Regions from separate parts of the Homo sapiens genome. Here region 2 is linked to region 1. Evidence: fine-mapped expression QTL. Tissue or cell type: whole blood. Region 1 holds a variant in brackets; the other region holds the start of a gene. All regions are shown on one strand. Distances are between the middles of the regions.

Region 1 (8,347 bases):
ATTTAGGAGGCATTCCTCTGAGAGGAATAGCCATTGTCTTTGTCAAAGTCAACACAGGATTACCCATACATACTCAGCTGCCTACATCCCATTGTTTAGTCCACATTCCTCCAATGTAAAAGTAGCCTCTCATTCATTTTACTTTTTGTATTCACAACAGCCTTCCATTTTCAAATTTGGGATTATAGGTTGATCAAGGTCCCTTAAGTGAATTTACCAACAAATGGAGACGCAGTGGCTTCAGTCTCAATCAGGCCATTTTTTTATTTTTTATTTTTTAGACATAGTCTCACTCTGTCACCCAGGCTGGAGTGCAGTGGCACGATCTCGGCTCACTGCAAGCTCCACCACCCAGGTTCACGCCATTCTACTGCCTCAGCCTCCCGAGTAGCTGGGACTACAGGCGCCTGCCACCATGCCCAGCTAATTTTTTGGTATTTTTAGTAGAGACGGGGTTTCACCATGTTAGCCAGGATGGTCTCGATCTCATGACCTCGTGATCCACCCATCTCGGCCTCCCAAAGTGTACAGGCATGAGCCACTGTGCCCGGCCCAGGCCATTTTTATCCCTTAAATTTAAATGTATTTAAATCACAAATGTAATTCTACCGTTAAATATAATTCTACCATGCTGCAAGAACTTTGATTTCAGCACTCTGTTTTTTCCATGTCAATATTCCCCATTTATCAAAACAGTGAGTAGTAGGTAGTAGGTGGTATGATATGTTTGTATACAATATGATACATAGACTTCATTTAAGAAAAATAGACAGCAAAATTTGATGCAGTGTTATCCATGGAAGGAATAAGTACAGGTGATTTTATCTTTCACTTGTTTTGTGTCATTATTTTATGAATTTCCTACAGTGTGCCTGCAATACTTTATAAATAATACATTTTTCCTTGATACAAAATGTAATGCTGCTTCAATTCACTTTCCAACTATTTCTCCATTTCTATGCCTTAGAAATAAAGTAGCAACAATCAATCAAGTCTCATTGCCTCACTTAAAATAGCCTTTGCGTTAAGTAGAAATCTTAAAGGAATTGTTGAAGAGATGAATATGTTTAAAAGTCTGGTGCCAGTTACATTAGCCACTGATTTTTTCATAACCATGGAAGAAACAATTAAACAAAATGAAAAGTATCAAAGTACTATTGTTTTGGAACAAGCATGTAATGGTCATTAGCATATCTCTGGCAATGGAAAGGCAAGGTGGTAGAGCATTTTGGCTTTGGAGTCAAATGGACTTTGGCTCGAATCCTAGCTTATGAGTTATTAAGAGTGTGATCTTGAGTGACTAACTTAATATCTCTTAGCTTCAGTTTCACCACCTGTAAAAGAGGAACATAAATACCAACTGTGTGGTTTTATTGTAATAAGTAGGAGAAATTTAAAAATAACCGACAGCAAAGATGCTTAGTCTTAGAATTTTCAGGACATGGTGATGAATTGAATGGAAAGGAGGAAGTAAAGGGAAGAGACTAGGACAACACTCATAGTTCTGGCTTGGATGAACAGATACAAACTGAGACCTACAGGATGAGTATGAATTAGCCAGGTAAATGTTCAGTAAGAGGAAAGAGACTATTCTAGAACTTGGGAGTGCATGAACAAAAGGCAGAAGTTAAGAGAGAACGTAACACGTTTTTGGAACTCAAAGTATTTTGATACACTTTGACAGTCAAGTACAACAGGGTAGCTAGAGATTAAGATGGAGGGAAAGGGCAGCCAGTCATGAAGAAACTTTTGAGTTATGATGCAATGTTTGTACTTTATCCTGAGCATAATGTGGAGACACTGAAAACTTCTAAATCATATTTGAAGTTGAGAGGATCAGGGTCAGGAAGCAGGATGACCAGGCAAGAGACTATGGCTACAAGCCACAGTGGTGGCCTAAAGGAGGCATCGCCAGCAGGAACTAAGAGAACACATCAGGAAAACCTTCCCTGATTCCATAGGATGGGCGGGGCAGCTCCTTTTCTTTGGGATCCACAGTCCTTTGTACTCATAGCCCTCATTGCAGAGTGCTTATCACAGTATATTTTAATTACACGGTAAAACAGATTCCAAGAGGGCAAGAGATGTGTCTTGTTTCCAGTCCCTCATGCAATTTCTGGCACCTGAAGAGTTGCATATATGTACATTAATGAAAGGGTATAAATATGAATCTCTCTCTCTCTCTTTGTCCTTCTCTTTTTAACAATGACCACTCATAGGCATGATGCAGACCCCTCTAATGAATGGAACTGTTTCCTCCAGTAGAGAGAAGACCACTGTTATTCTTACAGAAACTCTCAGTGTCGATATCCATGCGAAATGGTATTACATGCTGAACATTAAGTTAAATATGGCACATTTTCTGACCTCAGAAACTTTTCTATAAGATACATGCTTTGAACTTAAAAAAATAAATTTTGGCATAGTTTAGTTTCTCTTCCTTCTTTTAAAGTCAAGATCAATAAGTATAGTTGTTTTCTTACTGAGTGAATCTTTTCAGATGTGTTATTCCTAAACTTTCTCTTTATTTGTGTATATAAATCCTTTCCAGAATTTTCTGAACATCAGAAGATGATTTAATTAAATAGTCTTGGCTGGGCACAGTGGCTCACACCTGTAATCCCAGCACTTTGGGAGGCCGAGGCAGGCAGATCACGAGGTCAGGAGTGTGAGACCAGTGTGGCCAACACAGTGAAACCCCGTCTCTACTAAAAATACACAAAAAATTAGCTGGGCGTGGTGGCGGGTGCCTGTAATCCCAGCTACTCGGGAGGCTGAGGCAGGAGAATCTCGTCAACCCGGGAGGCGGAGCTTGCAGTGAGCTGAGATTGCGCCAGTGCACTCCAGCCTGGGTGACAGAAGGAGACTGTCTCAAAAAAAAAAAAAAAAAAAAAAAAAAAAAAAAAAAAATTAAATAGTCTTAGTTCCTGGACAATAGAAAATGTATTTTTAAAGTATATCTGATCCAGTCATGTTTCCAGTGAGCAATACTATTCACTGTATACATAAATGTTTAATGAATTAACAAGACTACAATTTCAAAAAATATTATATAGCTGCAAGGCTGTGTACTATTTTATAAAGCACACTACTAACACTGGAGAAGAAAAACATGCTGGCAATATGAACAATTTTAATTATTTATTCAGGAATAAAATTTCTATTTTTTTATCATTTACTGCAATATATTATTTACCTCTGAAATGTATACACCCTGTTAAATACCAAATAGGGTTTCTTGGTTTGACAAGGCTCTGTTGAATTACTGCCTCCAAGTCTTGATTAAATATGTTTATGTTTTCACTAATTACTCTGAAGCTTGAAAAACAATACTTGAAATCACTATATTTAATTATAATACAAACCTCTAGGACACTTAATAATTTAATGAAGCAAGTCTTTTGCTTGATCATTTTATGCCCATAATGATTTGACTGGGCTAGTAAGTGTTCTTACATAACATTCAAGGAAATACGGATTTCAAAATTTACATTTTTGATGACACAGTTCCAATACCGTATCCTAGGTTAACAGGAGATTATAGGCATTTGTGAAGTGTGTGTGGTTGGGGGGTGGTGTGCACACATGCATGTTATTTAATTCTTTTCATGGACATTTTGAAGGCTTTATAAAAACAATGGTATAAAATTTGAATTTTGCTAATCAACTTTATAAAGTTATTTGCAGAAAGACATTTTAAAATAAAGCAACTAAATAATTGATTTTTTTT[C/T]CTATAGTTCTGATAAAATTCATGATAGTACAAACATTTTCTGGAATGTGATGGAGTGTAAAATATTTTTGTCAGCCAGGCACAGTGGCTCACACCTGTAATCCCAGCACTTTGGGAGGCCAAGGTGGGCGAATCATGAGGTCAGGAGTTAGAGACCAGCCTGGCCAACATGGTGTAACCCTGTCTCTACTAAAAATTAAAAAAATTAGCTGGGCATAGTGACGGGCACCTGTAATCCCAGCTACTCAGGAGGCTGAGGCAGGAGAATCGCTTGAACCCGGGAGGCAGAGGTTGCAATGAGCCGAGATCGTGCCACTGCACTCCAGCCTAGGTGACAGAGTGAGACTCCATCTCAAAAAAATATATATATATATTTGTCTATGTCTATCTGTATATCCATATCTATAAACAGATTTATGTCTATCAATATGAATAAATAAATCTATGTTAAATTTACATATTCTTTACTATCTTAAAGAATGTGTAATAGGAAAGGTAAAAGTCAGATTAGTGGAGTATTATCTAATCATTAGAACTTAAGATACTGACATGGAAAATTGTCTGCCACATTGGACCTGGAAAAACAAAGTAGATCATAAGGTGGTATATGCAATACGGGAAGAGTTTTCAATCAGCAATATTGTGCCTTGGATAAACCTCATTGCCTACACATTGCAAACCTCATTGGCACTGTCACTGCACAAAGCTTAATATATACAATATGATCTTATTTTTTGATATGATCTATTATGAAATACTTAAAATTATCTTTAAACAGATATTACTTTAGAGGGTTATTGGCATCTATATTACATGAGGCAACACATTATATAGAGTTGCACATAATATGCACTCAATAAATGTGTATATTACTATTGTATTATTGCTTGTACTAACTCTTATGTGTAGTCTGCTTTCTCTTATAGAAATCTGTGCAGATGCAGGACCATCACCTTTGCCATGTGGTACTTTCTTAGCCTGTGCATATCTGAAAAACATAAACATGCTTAGCAGTATGAGGTAAGAATTAATTGCACCAATAAAAATTCATTGGGCCAAATGGAATTTCAACAGACTGAAAGATTCTTAGATGTTTTCTGGAAGGCTAAGTTGACTTAAGAATGCGTATGAAGAAATAATCTGTAAAAAATACTACAGGCCAATCGGCATCTGGAATCATGAAAATATTAATGATTCTTCCCAAGCCATATATTCTGGAAAATTCCAACTAATGAATGCACAGCCACATTAGCAAGCAGGAGACATGAACAGTGGATAGACACCATTTTTCTCCTTTGAACAACTCATGAACTGAATGTGAGTTGAAAGTAAGAAATACTAAGTGTGTTTTCTAAGGAATTCCCACATACTTTAAATAAAGACTTCTGGATCCACAAGACTTCATTTTGTGACACAGGGGTTCACAGATCAAACAGTTCAGAAAAGCTTCAAACTTCACTAAAAGCCTAGAAAGATCAGAAAGGATGAAGGGAGTTCACTGCCCAATATCTGCTCCTGAGGATGGGAGTAGGATAATGCATATATAGTCGATTAACTAGGAGGGATGGTGAGACATAGAAGAAATCAGAGTCTAGGCTAAATATCAGGGCAGCATCTTGGCAATGAAAGCTCCTGCCTTTGGAACACTCCCCTAAGGGAAACAGGAGATGCTGCTGCTTCATAAAAAGAATTAAATTGCCTAGATAAAAGCACGAGCGTGCACTGAGTGATCTCTTGCCCTTTAACTAGGACTTCGGACATACATAGTACTTCAAAATTGTTTGTTTTAATGCAGAATCATCTGAATGCACAGTAAACCAATGCTAAAGCCTGGCTAGAATAGATCGTCCTACAGAATTTGATAATCTTGGAATTAGGGGGGACCTTAAAAAATGCACTTATTTATGAAATACAGATACTGCTTCCTATGTACAGGCCAGGTACAATTTTAAACATGTTTTTATAAATAATAAGTCAATCACAGTTGGCAGGATAATGGAATAGGAGGCCCCCTGCTCATATACCCACACAGCAAGAAGCATTTGGCAGCCATCCACTGATAGAAGTGCCTCAGTGGGAGCTTTGGGATCTAGGGAGCAGATGTTAAAATTCTGGTATAGGCCAAAACCAAGGAGGCTCATTTTAATAGGGCAGGCCCACACTTGGGTGGCAATTTTGCTGACTATGGAGTAAGCCATTGATCAAAAATGAACGCATCCCCTGTGGACCCAGCTACAATCCTGTTTCACCTTGGTCCTGCCACCAGAACCATCCTCCAAGGAGGAGTCATGCTCACCCATGCCTAAAGTGACAGGTCCACCACCCACAGGCCTGGCAGCAGACGCTGAAGTACCCCTGTAACTCAGCTCTAGCCCCTCATCTAGTCTGAGACCAATCATGCCTGCCCAGAGACCTGCTGGGAGACACACCCATCTGTGCCCTGGGAAGTAGGCTTGCTACCCTCAGTCCCATAGCAGACCCTGAAAAAGCTCTAACTTGGCTCTAGCCCCTATAAACTGCAGTCTGAATGCAGTCCTGCCCACCCAGGAACCTGCCAGGAGTCACACTGTATGTACCCTGGGAAGCAGGCTTGCTGAACTCCATCCCACAGCAGATCCTACGACAGCTCAGAAATTTGTCTCCAGTGCCCTTCAATTGTGATCCGTGATCAGTTCTGCCTGTCCAGGAACCTGGCAGGAGATACGCCCATCTGTGCCTCCAGAGGCAGGTCTGAGACATGAGGCTGGGCTGTAGACCCTGAAGCAGCCCTGTAACTCAGTTCTAGCTCCTCTTATCTGCAGTCTGGGGCCAGTCTTGCCCACCCAGGGTCCCACCAAGTGACCCTTCCCAGGAACCAAGAAGAAGCCACACCTGTCTACAGACCTGGTAACAGGCCCATTTTCTGCAGACCTTGAAGTGGACCCTTGTACCAGTACCAGCCCTACTGACCAAGATCCTGGAAGTCCAGTCTGCCCAGGGACCAAACAATATTCACGCCAGCTCGAGCCCCTGGTAACAGGCCTGCCAACCACGAACTGTGATCTGGAGGCAATCCCATCAGCCCTGGGACCCAACAAAAGCAGAAAACCAATGCATCCACAAAATAAGATATTTAATAAATAAATAGAAATCATAAAAAAGAACCAAACAGAATGACAAATTTATTATCTCACTTATAATGTAGAATCTTGGAAAGTCAAACACATAGCATTGCCAGGGCCTGGGGGTGGGGGATATGGGGAGGTGTTGGTCAAAGGGTACAAACTTTCAGTTTGGGAAGCTAATGTACATCATGGTGACTATAGTAAATAATACTGTATTGTTGACTTGAACTTTGCTAACAGAGTAACCTAATGTTGCTTAATGCATACACACACATACACACACACCGGTAACAATGTGTGGTGATGGATGTGTTGATTACTTTGATTGTGATGATCATTACCCAGTGCATACATACATCAAATCATCATGTCGTATACCTTGAATATATACAATTTTTGTCAATTACACCCTAATAAATCTGGGAAAAAACTCAATCCCCATAAGAACTCTATGAGGTACATGATATTAGTACCAGCACTTTACAAGTGGGAAGACTGAAGAACAAGAGTATAAATAACTTTGTCTTGGTAGCATAGCTGCTTACTGGTGGAACAGAGACTTGACCCCAGGAAGTCTGGACCCAAAGTCTGCATCCTAAACCTTGCAAATGCATTGCCTTTTATCTTGGTAGGCATTCAGTATTGCTTTTTCTAGATAGGAAAGACTGTATTAGTACATATGAACATCATGCATAACATTTATTCTAAAAAAGAATTTGACTCACAATCTTGATTCTGGGAATATCTGATTTTACTGAAAGATTATTTGCTAATTACTCTTCCCAAATCTTATGAATAGGATGAATGAAGCAGGCACAATTTGAGGCGTTTTGTATTTAATACTATTTTACTGCCTACCATATTTTCACCCAATCTAAATATGCAAGGCCCAAATCAGCAAATTTTCCACATCCATTGTTCCCACTTCCAGTTAGTATTGACATTATATATTACATTTTTTTGTATCTTCTATAACCAATCGAGTTCATTCTCTCTTCTCCCCGTTCTTTCTGCTCCACTGAGGTTCAAAAGCCCATTCCTGGTTTATTGTAGAACCGCCCTAAGCATTCTCTCCCTCTCCTATCTGCCTGTTTTAGCCATAGCAGAGATTGCTGGTTAAGGAGACTTGGGAAGGTGTCGGCTCAGCAGTTTCCAGGCATGGCAAGAAGTGTCCTGAGGCAGAGGCACAGTTAGATGGACAGGGACCAAAATGAGATCACTCATGGTGCTGAAGCAAAAGCAAGTCCAGGGTTTAGATCAAGCAACAACATTGTACAGTTGAACCCAAGGGCACATGTATCCTGAAGCTAAGTAACTCAATCTTCAGAGTATCTCAATGGTACAGGTCTCTTTCCAAGTCTTGGGAGAGACTGTAGCAAAGGTCCCTAAAATTATATAAGTGCAAAAATCCAAAACCTAAATCTTCTCATTGAAGCTATGGCTTTAATCACACCTTCAAGGTGGAATTTGGTTCAGCTATTTAGAAAATTGGAAACCAGATAAAATGCATATC
Region 2 (8,347 bases), 56 kb after region 1:
AATGTCTTTGTTCTTAGCACATGGTAGATTACCCTTTTATTTTTCACAAAATTGGGAGATGTTTTAAAATCATTTAAAATCTTTTATCCAGTACTGCCAGGTGTCTGTAACCATAAATTTTTCAGATTGTCTCAGTCAGCTGAATTGCCAGTGCTTTAGTTTACAGTTTACTGTTTCATTATTCATAATCAATCAATTACTCCTTCCCAAGCAGAAAGTTTAGTTGGACTGTGTTTTCAGATCCTGAGATTTTAGAAATGCTTAACTTTTTTAAATGTCTGGGATTCTTCCCCAAGTTCAGCAGTGATGAACTGTAAACATACCTTTAAAGTTCTAAATAAAGGAAATCTGAAATGCCTCCTGGGACCTTGGCAGGACATGGGCCTTTCTTGCTAATCACCATTACAAATTGATCACAATAGAGAATATTAATTGATTTGCTATTGAAAGTTGAATAAAGAGAAAATCTGAGCCATTTTCTTCTGAACACCATTTCAATTTATTACTATTTTAACTATTAAGGCCTTATTTAACTATTAAGGCCTTATTGCACATAATTGCTCACAAATAAGATAATTTACCATAATTTTCAGTTTTACTACTGAAAACTGAAGCCCCATAAATATAAATAAAAACTGAAGCCCCATTACTACTGAAGCCCCATTACTACTGAAGCCCCATAAATATATGTAAAAAATTTTTCTAAATAAGAAAACTATGAAACAGAAATTTTTGGCAAGAGTCATAGAATTTATTCCACAGAAATGACAACTTACAAAGACTTGGGATCTTATAAGGGAAAATCTCAATGATTTGAGAAATGGCAATATTCATATCTAAAATGTACTAGTGATTGCCACTTTCAGAAATGATACACCTCCCACTATGAAATTGTATAAATCACAAGTCAAAAGCATATGGAAGAGTTGATTTCTACTCTACCAGAGGGAGTAATTTTCTTTAGCTCTTTCTCATACATCATAGGTGTGAAGTACTTTTGTTTCTTGGTTAAAATTTTTCTGTTAGTTGATTATTCAACTAGAAAAACTTAAAATCTTGTCAGAGAAAACAGTGGATGAAATGTAACTATAGAACCTTTTGGAAATAATAGATTCATATAAAACCAAACCCAAATTCTAGAGCATGGCTCACTCTTACATGTATTATAGTACCTCTGACATCACGCAGAGGGTGGATGTTATGAATTGAAGCACATTAAAATATTTCTGTTCATCACTCTGCTGCTCAGTTCTATTTATTAAGAATAGTCCAGGATTCTTGAACTAAGGGAATATTCACTAAATACTGCATGTTGAGGACAGCCTGGGTAACATAGTGAGAACTTGTAGCTAAAAAATGTAATAACAATAATTAGACAAATTAGGCAGTAAGCCACATTTGAAGAAAGCACTGGGAAGAGTTTTCAGGACAACTTGGAATTATTACTTTATTTAGTCTCTCTCACTACTGATATATAACCACAAGGTTTTTAATCAAATCATTTTTTGACAGACACAGCGACAAGTGATTATATGGATTACAGAATGAAAAAAGGTTTTGTTCATGGAACAGTCTAATTTTTAAAAAGCCGTATAAATTTTTAGTCACCTAGTTTAGCCAGGAGGTAATGTTGCCAAACCTATAACCCTCAGACATCGGAGATCTCAAGTTTAACCAATAAAAATTCCATCTATGTCTTAAACTTACACCTTCAAAGTACATTTTAAAATAGCAGCATTTCAGAATATCCAAGATTTATTTATTTTTCTTTCTATTCTTGTTTTTTCTTGTCATATATCACCTTGCTATTCAGAGGGTGGTCCACGGACTAGCAACCTTGTCATCATCTGAGGGATGTCAGAAATGGAGAATCTTGGGCTGTACCTAAGACCTGCCTTCTCAAAATCTGCATTCTAACAAGATTTCCACATGATTTGCATGCTAGCCATTAAAGTTGGAAAAGTCTGTACTATGAGACATAAAAATATCTTCTAATTTAACACATCAAGTGTAAGATTTCTTTGAGGGATGATGAAATTGTCCTGGAATTAGATATTAGTGGTGGCTGTACAACTTTATGGATATATTAAAAATAGTGCATTGTACAAGTTAAATGGGGGAATTACGTGGTATGGGAATTATGTCTTGAACTTTTAAAAAGAAAAACATATACATAATTGTAAATGCTCTTAACTTGCACAGCACACAGATGAATGAAACCAGTTCTAACTATTCTCCTTTATCTTTGAGAAAAGTTAGATGCTCCCTTTACTGCGGCTCACCTCTTACTTCGAAAGGGCACCGCAGCAGGGCTTGAGGCTGGGCAGCCCTGACACAGCACCCATCTATCAGGAGGGTCTGCCAGGCGCCTATGGGGTGGAATCCTCCCTCCAACTAAAGCTGTTTATAGAGCTGAGAACCTCGGGAAACCGCTTGCGGGTGGATGTGACAAGTCAGGAAACTTGACTACCCAATCACCCAAAGGGGCAATGGGACAGAAATGCTATCTGCCCGCTGCACATGTGGTCACAGCGGTGTCGGGGAAGCGGAGTCTTTTCTTCTGGAGTCCACTCTGCTTACTCCCTACCTCCCCTCCCGCCACCCACCCAGCTAAAAAAAAAAATACCCTAGATTCATAAACAAAAGCTTGCAGTTACCCACAGCCCAATACAAACGACCCGACGCCCTCACTTCTATAGCCCGTGAGTCTCCCAGCCCCTAACAGGCTCGTCTCCCCAGACGCCCCGGGTGAAAAGGTTCGCGCCGCCGGTGGAGAGTCCTATTGGTTCTATTTCTGTCTTCACTCCAAGGCCCCAGGACCGGGGAGAGGTCCTGGTCTAACTTTGGCTGTCCCACGGTCCAAGGACCTCAGCGCTCAGCCCGAAACGCTAAGCCAAGCGTGGAGACCGCCGGGCGCACCCAGCACCCAGGCAGCTCCAACCCTTGGAGTTCTAGTCATCTCTCCCCCACATAGGCTAAGAGTCACCCGGGCGCACATCTGAATCAGCCCCCTGTTCAGATCCCGCCTGTTACGTAGCGATCCTGTCTCTTGTAGAGCGCAGGATGAAGGGGTCTGGAGAAATCGACCACCCATCTAATCACCTGCAATGGTGGTGTTACTATGCGGTCTCACTCTCGTGGGCAAACATATCCATGCGTACCTACGAGGAGCAAACCTAGACAACCCCGCCTCCCCCACTCCCCGCGCGCCCCTCCACTCACTCAGGTCCCAGCCCTGGCTCTCGCGGACCTCCCAGCACCGTCCTAGGAGGTACACACGCGGGTTCAGGACGCGCGCGGACGGACTCGGCCACTCCTGCGAGCGCACAACCTCCCTCCGCGCAGCCCGCGCCCGATCCGCCCCGCGTCGCCGGCACTCACAAGCAGGGGTAGTAGCCGTAGCAAGGCAGCGGGGCTTGCGGGCAGCCGTCTTCTCCCAGCTCCGAGTCCATGAGCAGATAGTCCTGGCTCTCGTTGCGCCGCGCAGCGGCTCCGGCAGCGCCCCGGGGAGAACTGCCCCTCCGGGGCCCGAACGCCGGGCTCTGGCTCATGGCGGGAACGCCCGACTGGCCTGGGCCCCGCTCCCGGGGGAGCCGAGTGGGCAGTTCCAGCGGGGACCCGGTGCGGAGGGTTCGCGTCAGCGGCCGAACTGGACCTGGGCAGACCGGTGCCCAGGGGACGACGGTGAAGCAGGGGGTGCAGACGCCCGCCGCAAGTGGCTCGCCCACTGGCCCGGGGAAAAGTCACCACTTAAGGGGGTGCAAAGAGGATCTTGACCTGAGCAGGTCAGGCCGAGGAGACCCCGCGAGGATGCGTCTGGGGCGCCCGGGCAGAGAGGGCACAGGCGGGGCCGCTGGTGGTAGCGAAGCGTAAGAGCGGAGAGCAAGGGAGACGGAGCTGAAGAGTTACTATGTCAACAGAGACTCTCCAGCCCTCAGCTCCCGCCTTCATCCCCCGCACTCTCCGTCAAGATCCCCACCTTTAAAGGGATCCGAGCGACGTTCTAGAAAGCAGCCAAAGCCTGTCCTGTAGCCACAACTTTCAGGAGGCGGTATGAGCCTGAACTAGGAGGAGCCAGGCACGCACTCTTTTTTTCCCCTCCACTATTTAGTTGGCTCATTTAGTAAGGATACCAACTGCGGACTTCGTAGGAAGCTTCCTTTAAGAACCACTCTCAAAGAGCCAAGGAAACCTGTTCCTTAAAAGGGACACGAGCCTCTTCTTTCTCCAGACTGCCTTCATTTTCTTTGGTCATTTTCTCTCTTACCCTCAACTCATAAAGTTATTATGACTCTGCTTTAAAAATGAACAACGTTCTATGTTCCAAACGCCAGATGTTCCCAGTTCCTGAGAAAACCAACAAAAATAGGCAAGCATTTTCCAATGATACCGATAAAGAGGCCAACAACCTGCTTACTTCAGAGAAAAAATTTTCCTTCCGTCACTGCGAATGCAAGAATGATTTCTCTGCCAGATGTTTCCCACGTTTCCAAGCTGTTTTATTTTTAAGACTTAGTTTTAAATTCTGATTAATATGCATACGTGTGAGAAGTAAAAACTTGTCAACAAGGATGAATCAGTATTTGTAGACCTTTAAGCAGTAGTAGCCAATTAAGAATCCATTCATTAAGTCAACAAATATTTAATGAATGCCAACTGCGTTTCAAATCATTTCAGAATTCGGAGGCAAAGAAGCAGATGAGGCACCTGTCTGCCCTCATAGAGCTTTCGTGGCAGAAAGGGGGACCAATTAAATAAGCAAATGAAAAAATATCAAGGACAAATGCTACAATGAAAATAAAACAGGTTGATGTGATGGCAGCTGGTGAATGACTACTTCAGATGAGATGGTTAAAAGAGGCCCCTCCAAGGAGGTGCTCGTTAAGTTGAGACATGCATGGCAAGCAGCCAGCCATGAAAAGATCAGAGGCCCATTGCAATTGGATGAAAGAAAGCCAGACTGAAATCTGTCTGCAAAGGTGCCTTTGCTTCCCATGAACAGGTGGACAACAAAATGAATGTTGGAAGTGTGGGAAAATGCAATTGATTTGATAGAAGGGAAAAGAGCTCACACATTTAGAAACTTCTGAGTTTGCCTTTAAATTTAGAACTGAAACTCAGAGAGAGCAGAAACCACTGTGTCCTGAGGATCCAGCTTCGTATTTGACACAGGTGTGTAGGGTGCATGCATGCATGCTTGGGTGGGTGAGTGGGTGGGTGGGTGGATGGATGGATGGATGGACGGATGGATGGATGGATGGATGGAAGGAATATAGAAAAAATAAGAAAATGCTCTTGGCCCTGGAAAGAACATTTTCCCTGGGGAAACAAACAACCTGCATCATTCTGAAGTCTGTTCTTTCTGATTTAACAGCCTTCCTTTTTGATCTTTCAACATGTGGAGCCATGATTTAAAATTCTTATAATTTTCTAGTTACTATACCTAGCAATAAGATATTCTTCCTAAAATTTGTTTGTGGCAACTGCTATCTGTAAGTATTCATTAGCTTTGATGCTTGAATGAATTAATCAATAAACGTTTAGTTAAACAGTGCCAAGGTAATCTCTTTGGCAACACCAAGTATGGGGAAAACATTCATGGGAAAAGTAATATTCAAAGGTTTTCTACCCAATTCAAATTCTGTGAGTTAAAGCCAAATTAATAAACATTTGTAGTGTCAGTTGAAGTGTTAACCTTTCACATAAAAAGAAAAAAAACAAAAACTGAGACAGAATTTATTTTGCTGTTGTTACACTGTTTTTCATTCACAGGTAACAACCTTCACACTGAAAAAATTACTACAGTAAACTTATTCTGACATCAATTTATCATGTGGTAAGACATGTTTTCCTCTGTTTTTTTTTTTTTTTTTGAATTATTGTGAGTACTAGAACAACAAGCCCAGTCATTTATTGAGTACCCAGAAGGAATAAGGTGGTGTACAAATGTTAGAAGATTCTGAAAGAGCTTATGACATGATGAAGTGGAATCATTAGATCAGAAGTCTCAAAGCCTGGATTTTTATTTCGGCCACTTCCCTAACTGAAGTTACATGATTTCAGAGAGGTCATTAAATCTCTCTCTGCCTCAGTTTTTTCATCAGTAAGCTGGTATACAATTACGCCTCAATCTCTAACTTCCCACATTATATAGTTATCTATGCAGTTTTATCACTTTACATTAAAAACATGGTGAAACCAATTTTTAAAAAGACAAAATACGATTAAATAATATAATTTTTGAATCAACTATGGAAGTATTGAGTAGATCTGGAGTCATGAAGAAAGCTGAGTGAACAAAGAAACAATAGTTTTTAAAGTTAAAAAATTGTTGGGTGAGCACAGGACTGATAGTTCTCACAGAGTTGGAAATTGCTATGCAATTATAGGTTATGTATGTTTATGTAGTATGTTCATGCTATTGAAATAAAAAAACACTCAGTCATTAATTCTGAGATGTGAGGATGAAGGTGAGTTATGTGTCTCTGTGGGCAGAGGAAGAGATGTTAATGAGAGAGGACCTTTGCCTCATTATATATATCTGCACTGTTTGATTATTAGTTTGATTTTACAAAAACAGATATTTTACATATATACATGTGTGTAATATATATAATGTGTATATATATTATACATATAATATATATATAACACAGTGTTTTGAAAAGCTGATAGGAGAAAAATGAGTAAAGAAAAATGGTTGTCCTCTAGAACAGTGGTCCCCAACTTTTTTGGCACCAGGGACTAGTTTCGTGGAAGACAATTTTTCCACGGACCTGTGGGGTGGGATGGATGGTTTGGAGACTATTTAAGTACATTAAATTTATTGTGCACTTTATTTCTATTATAATTACATTGTTTTATATATAATGAAATAATTATACAACTTACCATAATGTAGACTTGATAGGATCCCTGAGCTTGTTTTCCTGCAACTAGATGGTCCCATCTGGGGGTGATGGGAGACAGTGACAGATCATCAGGCATTAGATTCTTACAAGGAGCACACAACCTAGATTGCTCACATGCACAGTTCACAATAGGGTTCATGCTCCTAGGAGAATCTCATGCCTCCGCTGATCTCACAGGAGGCAAAGCTCAGGCGGTAACGCAAGTGATGGGAAAAAGCTGTAAATACTAAATACAGGTGAAGCTTCGCTGGCTTGCCCACTGCTCACCTCCTGCTGTGTGGCCCAGATCCTAATAGGCCACAGATGGATAGCAGTCCATAGCCTGGGGGTTGGGAACCGCTGCTCTAGGAAGTCTCAGGCAAGGAGCCCAAAGGGAAAGGAAAAGAAATTGCCACTAGAAGCAAAAGGTTGAGAAAACATTAAATGCTTAATAACTCAAGAAGCTCAAAAGTTACACAAAGCTGCAGTTTGTGAGTTGCTGTTGCTGATGGAAAACCACTAACATAGGAGTCTCTCTGGAAAATGCAGTTTGGGGTTGGTTGGCCAGAAGTACAGATAAAAGTTTAGTCGTGATTTCATCTGGATATTTTAAAGCATGGAAACCCTGAGCCCTGACTCCTATCACATGTAGAATCAACCGGGTGAAAACAGAAACACTTCAGAAGCTTCAGAGGGGCTGCTGATTCTCTATGAATGAAAGTGCCCTGCAAACTCCAGTTTGAGTAAAATCTGAGCAGGTGCTGCTATATCTTTGAACCTCAATTTCTTAATTTTTAAAATAAAGGGGTTATAATACTTTACATTTAGTATCTGTCTTGCAGCTAAAATGTTATTAACCATCAGAAACAAATAGAAGAATCTACAGATTGCTAATTTCATTTTTGCTCTAATTTGAGCTTGACATAGATGTTGTCCAAAATTCTAACATTATCATATGGTTATTTTGTAAGCACTTGTGATTAATATGGTTTCACTTAGAGAACAAGTTATGTTAATATCTCTTTTGATGGAATTATTGGGACATTTTTAGTAAACTGTTTACCAAGAGCATCGTGTGATATGTTTGACAGCACGATTGAAAAATAAGAACTGGGTAACAAAGGAGTGATTCATAAATAGTTAGAAGACGATTGAAAAGATTGTTGATTTATACATCAATGTCACCCAAGTTTAGTAAATGAAGACATACCAAGAATGGACTGAGCTGCTTTTGGTTTTTTGTTTTGGCTTGTTTTTGCTGGTTTTTGTTTTGTTTTGTTTTTGTTTTTGTTTTCTTTCACTGGACATGTTCAAATACAACCTGGACCTCAATTTTCCACGTATACTACAAGGAAAATTAATATACTTATGGAAAATTAAGTGAACACTAAGATCCTGTAAGAAAAAATCTAAAATTCAAAAACTAATCATCATCTCCATGGATCCAAAAAGTTAAT

Evidence for each region.
Region 2: it holds the start of TRPC6, and the variant in region 1 is fine-mapped to the expression of TRPC6 in whole blood (TOPMed, PIP above 0.99).

Annotation. Positions count from the first base shown.
Region 1 is chr11:101,523,989-101,532,335 of GRCh38, forward strand. The region is part of intron 1 of TRPC6 (transient receptor potential cation channel subfamily C member 6); the gene reads right to left. Among named protein-coding and RNA genes, the nearest start is that of MIR3920, 8.3 kb to the left of the region's middle. The variant C/T (reference allele first, on the strand shown) is at 3,731.
Region 2 is chr11:101,579,953-101,588,299 of GRCh38, forward strand. It overlaps TRPC6 (transient receptor potential cation channel subfamily C member 6), which reads right to left and starts at 4,055. Exons shown (of 13, transcript NM_004621.6): 1 at 3,382-4,055. The coding sequence starts at 3,551.